Regions from separate parts of the Homo sapiens genome. Here region 1 is linked to region 2. The links come from fine-mapping of genetic effects on gene expression. A gene starts in region 2. The other region holds a variant in brackets. All regions are shown on one strand. Distances are from middle to middle. Region 1 overlaps CLTCL1 (clathrin heavy chain like 1). Region 2 holds the start of CLTCL1 (clathrin heavy chain like 1).

Region 1 (2,844 bases), 110 kb before region 2:
GGGCCAGTGGAGTCTGGGAACCCTGGGCCAAGGCTGTGCAGCCACAGTGTGGACCAACGTGATAGTGGCTGCTAACTCCATCATCCGCAACAGAAAGGGAATGTGCGCCTCAAAGTCCTGGGGGATCCCCACAAGCACTTTGACCCCCACAGCAATGACACTCCCTAGGGCCTGGTGAGCCTGAGTTCCTCTGACACTAACCCACGGGCCTCTACTGCCAGGAAGAGATTCAAGCACTTTCTTTCCTTGTGCTGGTTCTCAGAACACAGACTACTTTCAGGAAAGACACCCGAGGGATGGGAAAACCTGCTCATCATGGTGACAGCAGCTTCCACAGGCACGCACCAGACACCGCACACCACACACTGCATACCACAAACCACATACCACACGTGCCGCCTGTAGGGAGTTGCCATCCACTGTGGTGGGGGAACCAGGGCCCTTGTCAATCCAACCAGTCCATGTCCCCTGGCAGCCCACGAATCTCAGGCCACGTAGCCAGGGCTGTCCCTTCCTCCCCAACCCTTGAGAGTCATCAGGGAGTCTCACTCAGGCATGCTATGCAGATGGGATGGGGTCACACTGTCCTACAGGAGGGCAACGGCCTTGAATGGACTCTGGGATGGCCTTTATCAGGGGCTGGGCAGCCCCCTGGAGGCTCTGCAGGCGGCAGGCAGCCCTCCAGGCTAAAGCTGGCAGCATGAGCCCGCCTTCCTGTTTCCTTCCTACCTCCCACTCACCTGGGAGGCCCCTCCCTTCCCTCGCTCCACTGAGTGATGCTTCAGCATGAGTGCCTTCCGAGGCTCTCCATCTGGCTTGAAGGAGGTTAGATAGGCAAGTAGATGCTACTGGAAGTAGCTTTTCCAGTGTTAGAAACAACAAACTGTACCAGATGACACTGCTGACACAGGTCTCTGGACAGTGGCTAAAGCTAGATCCCAGCAGGGACTCCTAGGACTTCAACACCCAGGGAGAGTTTTACAATCAAGTACTGTCACTTCGATGAGGCAGAGAGTCATCCTCCCTATAGCTGTTAGAAGGATTCAGTGGATCTGTGAATACTCCTACTATGTGTTCAGCAAAAGGCAGCTACCACCAACCGTATGCTAACAGCTGCACCCCCAGACGCCACTGGGAGCTCCTCAGGGAGCTGGGATTGCCAGCCACCTCACTGTCACCTTGTTGAAGTCCAGGGCTGGGGATGAGCACGCCTGTTGTGCTCCTAGCAGTGTGCACATTGGGACAGCTGCCCAGCCAGAGTCTACAGGAGGGCTGCTGCCAGTGGGCACTCCCCATGATGATTTTCTGGAGGGGCTTAACGTTGGGCAGAAAACCACTTCAGCATGAAGGAAAGCAGCCACTCCTGAAGGCAGCCAGGGCTGGCTGGGGAATCTGGGTTGGCCTCAAAGGGGCCCACCCTTAAGACCTGCGGCCAGAGTCACTGCCAGGGTTGGGTCATGCCACACAGGGGCCGGGGAGCTGCAGCC[G/A]GCCCGGCACCTACCTTGCTCAGGTACTCCCTCATCACCTGGATGAAGTAGGGCATGGCCAAGTCCACGAGGTTGTGCCTCCAGGCCAGCTCAAGCACCATGTCTGGGCGAAGCAGGTCATAGCAGGTGAAGAGACAAGCTGCGAAGCACTCCCTCTTGCCTTCCTCCAGGAACCACTGCAGCAACTTCTGGGCCAGCTCAGCATCCCGCGACTCTGCAGCATGCTGCATGGCATCCTGCAGCCAAGGCAAATGCTTGCTTGGGCATCCTGCAGGCAGAGGCTTTGTGCCTGCAGCAGCTGGGCCGGAGGGCAGGGAGTGGCACTAGACTCCACCAAGGACTTCCTGCGCTGTGGAGCAAGCCTGGACCCATGGCTGGGCCATTCCCTATGCCCTGCTGCCCACTGGTGAAACGGAGATGCCACCTCCGGAGGCTCTGGAGGGGACAGGTGGCTCACGGAGGCGCAGGTGCCCTGGGAGACAGGAACTCTAGCCCCGAGGGCAGAGGGCGTGCACAGGCTGCTCTGAGGAAGGCACTGATGGGAGTTTGGGGGTTGTGGGGCTGCTGCAGAGGTGCTGCACTCAGGTCCATGGAGCGTGTGACACCAGGGGAGCAGTTAGGAGGGGTACGGCTACTGCTCTAGAAACAGCAATGTGTTTTTCTTTCAAGTGGCTCAAAAACCCCTAACTGCTATTTTCATCCTTGCAAATGTATTTGTCTAAGACAATATCATTGACAAAATAACACCTGCACCTGACCAGTCCTGAAGAAGCCTGCACTTTCTGTGGCCATTCTCTATTTTCTAGCTCCACAGCAGGCACTGGATCACCTGATTCCTTCTATGGCAGGGGCTATTAGTACCCCATTCAGAGACCAGGAACCTGAGACCCAGATGTAGTCACTTGCCCAGGGCCACTCCACCTGGAGTTGGCCATGATCCACTGACTGTGACCTGTGCTCTCCAGGGATACCCTGTGGCGGTCCCAGCTCTGCATGCCTGCCATCGCCTGCAGCACACACCTCTGAGTTCCGTTTGGGAGACCCCTGAGGACGCCCAGTGCCCACATCTGCATGGACCCGATGTGCTGAGCTGGCTCCGGAAAGAAGTCTCCCCCGCTGGCATGCTGCTCATCGATCGCTGCCTCCTGACCCACACTGTTCCTACAAAGGCACCAGGATTCTGACCCTCAGGTGAGAGCTCCAGGTGCCTTTGGGTCTCCGCTTTGAGGACCTGTGACGCCCGCTCATCTGTCTCCCTGCCGTGCCCTCCACCGGCCCAGCCTACCCTTGCTGACTTGTCTTCCACATGTGCCTAAAGTGGGCCCTGCTCTGTTCCTCCTCTGTGGGCCTTGGGGAC
Region 2 (2,906 bases):
TGCATTCACGTGGCTGCCCACCACAAGCCACAAGCATTTTCCAGATAATGGAACATATCAACTCTGATGGACATTACAAATCCTGATGGACATTAGAAACTCTGATGGACACCTAAAATATCTTGTTGCTTTCTTGCCCTTTGAAAAGAACATATTTAGATAGTGGTTAAGCACAGGCATTGGAATCAGACCTGGGTTAGAACTCAAGCTTTGTCACTTACTAGCCATGTAACTTTTGCTGAAGGAATTAGAATATTAACCTCAGTGACCCATGGTAGAAAACAGGATATCACTATCTGCCTCAGTTATCATGAGGATTAAATTAAACCAGATTTATAAAATACAGTAGTCTAGTGAGTGGCAAGAGAAACGGCTCAGTAAATGATAACTACATCATCATCATTATTATGAGCAGCAGCAGTATTTTGCTACCTCAACATGACTGGTGCTGGCTTAGCTTAGTGGCAGAATGAAGCCCGGACAGATGTCAGGGCACTCCCACCTCCATACAACTTCCACTGTGTCACTAACCAAGTGACCCTGGCAGGATCCCCTGGATATCAAGTTTCCAGTCTGCAGAATGAGGGGACTGGACTGCACTACACAGTTCCCAAGGCTTTTCCCGTCTGCATCTAGGGCTAACAGTGCTCTGCACTGTGAAAATAGGAACTTTCAAGCAAGCACGTTCCTCGATGTACTACTTTGTGGTCAAAAAGACTTGAGTCTGAATCCTGTTCTTATTGAATGAAGATGAGTTCTTTAACACTTTTGAGACTCGGTTTCCTCATCTAGAAAAGAGTAAGCGAATCGCAACGAATGGTAGTGTGATGATTTAACACAGAGCACTCAGGGAGGAGCCGCTGGCTATCCCTCCTCTGCCGCACCTCCCAGGGTAAACGTGGGGACCAGCACCGCTCCCGGGCAGACCCGCGAGCGGCCCGCACGACGCCCGACCTGAGCCTTTGCTCAAAGCAGGGGGCCAGTCCTTATGTTTCTGAACACAAACAAATGGAGAACAAACTGGGACCTTATTAAAAAGGCAGGCTTTGGGGGTGTTACTGCATTGAAAAGCCCTATTTAGGCTTGGCCCTGAGAAATTTTTCTCTTGGGTCACGCATGTTCACGGTCCTCCCAGGCGAAGCCGCCCTGGGGACGAAAACCGATCACAGAGGCAAACTCAGGGGCGAATAAGGACCGCAGGACGCCAAGGAGGGGCGTGGAGCTGTGGGATCCGCGCGGCCCTTGGGTTGCCCTGCCTGCAGCGGGAATTTGTGTGCCTCCTCGCGGGCACTGAGCGGGGCGTCCCAGGGGGCGTTGGCTTCCACCCCCACCATTCCCCAGCCGGCCCCGCCGGTAACGGGCTTCGGCGACGGCACCCAAGCGGGTCCTCAGGAGCGGCCGCCGCGCCCGGGACGCCGCAGCCCCAGCCCAGGTGGGAGGTCGGAAATCGGCGCGGCCAGCTGGGCAGCGGCTCAGCGGGGCTGGGGGCGCGGGGTCAAGCCTGGCAGTCCGGCCCGGCGGAGGCGCGGCTGACAGGGCAGCCCCCCAGCCCGCCGGGCCTCACCTGGAAGTGCTCCTGAAAGCGAACAGGGAGGATCTGCGCCATGGCTGGTGCGGGACCTCGGCGGCGGCGGCGGCAGCGGCAGGAATGAACGCCGACCCCTCGCGCGGGCTGACCGGTGGCGACGGCGCAGGCGCAGTGCCCCGAGCTCCCGGTCCTGGCCCCCGCCCTCCTCCCTGACCGCGCCCCGGCCCGCACCCCCTTTCCCCGCCCCTTCCCCCGCCCCTGCCCCGCCCCTGCCCCGCCTCTGCCCCGCCCCTGCCCCCGCCCCTGCCCCCGCCCCTGCCCCCGCCTCTGCCCCGTCCCGCCTGCGCGGATCCCTCCGCCCGCTCCGAGGGTCCGCGGAAAGTAGTCCCGCGCGCCCTCTGCCCTGACGCGGTGTGTGCCAGCTACCCGAGTGAAAGGTTTTCGGGGGATTAATCCTGATGGGGTCTGCGGCGGCCCTTGCCCAGCGCCTTCCACATGTGGAGCGGGCCAGTGGTGCTAGTTCTGCCGCCAACTCTGGACGGTTGAGTTCAGGGCCACTTTTTACTCAGGCACGGATGTGACAGAAAGATGGAAAAGGGTCTTGGAAGAACCACATGTGCCGTATAACGAACGACCTTTTGGTCTGAGGAGGACCGTGTATATGACGGTGGTCCCATAACATGATAACGGAGCTGGAAACTTCCTGTCCTCTGGTGAGGGCTTAGCTAAGGACATTTCCTCTCCTGTATTTGGAGATACACGTACAGGTATGTCATTACCGTGCCAGGGGAATAACGCACCTCACACGCGGTGCGGGTTTGCGGCCTAGCAGCAGCGGACCGCATCAGCTGCCTAGTTGTGTAGTGGCTGTGCCATCTGAGTTTGTGTAAGTTACCTTGTGATGATCCCACAACCGAGACGCATGTCTCAGAATGCATGGATGCATGGGACGCGTGACTGTACGTGTTACAGACGTGTTTCGGCGTGAGGCTCGGCCCCTGCTCCTTTAGGAAACACCTTTCCTGGCTCATGCGGTTTCTAGAGAACACTGTGTCGGAATATCAATGTAGAGAGTCAGCGAAGGTCATCTAGCAGCAGATGACCAGCCCCAGGCCAGTGAGGATCACCCAGAGTGCCCGTGGCTGCACGACAGTAGTAGCAGGTGGAAGCTGGAGCCCACACCTGGTTTGCCCAGCAGCCAGTTGTTTTTCCGAGGCACCGTTGGCTGATGTTTTGCATACAGATGATTCAGCTGCATAAAAGATGTCTGTCAGGAAAGGGAAGCCCTTGGCATTCAGCACAGGCACTCCCTACGGGGTAATCGATAGCCGTCTCTGCTGCTTCCCATGTTGCTCACTGGTAATTTTAAGAAATGAAC

The links. PIP is the estimated chance that this variant, and not a neighbour inherited with it, causes the effect.
Region 1: its variant is fine-mapped to the expression of CLTCL1 in neutrophils (BLUEPRINT, PIP 0.95).

The regions. Positions count from the first base shown.
Region 1 is chr22:19,181,889-19,184,732 of GRCh38, forward strand. It overlaps CLTCL1 (clathrin heavy chain like 1), which reads right to left. Exons shown (of 33, transcript NM_007098.4): 30 at 1,502-1,723. Among named protein-coding and RNA genes, the nearest start is that of SLC25A1, 4.6 kb to the left of the region's middle. The variant G/A (reference allele first, on the strand shown) is at 1,488.
Region 2 is chr22:19,290,036-19,292,941 of GRCh38, forward strand. CLTCL1 (clathrin heavy chain like 1) reads right to left here and starts at 1,684. Exons shown (of 33, transcript NM_007098.4): 1 at 1,565-1,684. The coding sequence starts at 1,606. LOC105372859 (a long non-coding RNA gene) reads left to right here and starts at 1,912. Exons shown (of 6, transcript XR_938002.3): 1 at 1,912-2,295. RefSeq lists an enhancer at 873-1,386 and silencers at 1,497-1,681, 1,563-1,802.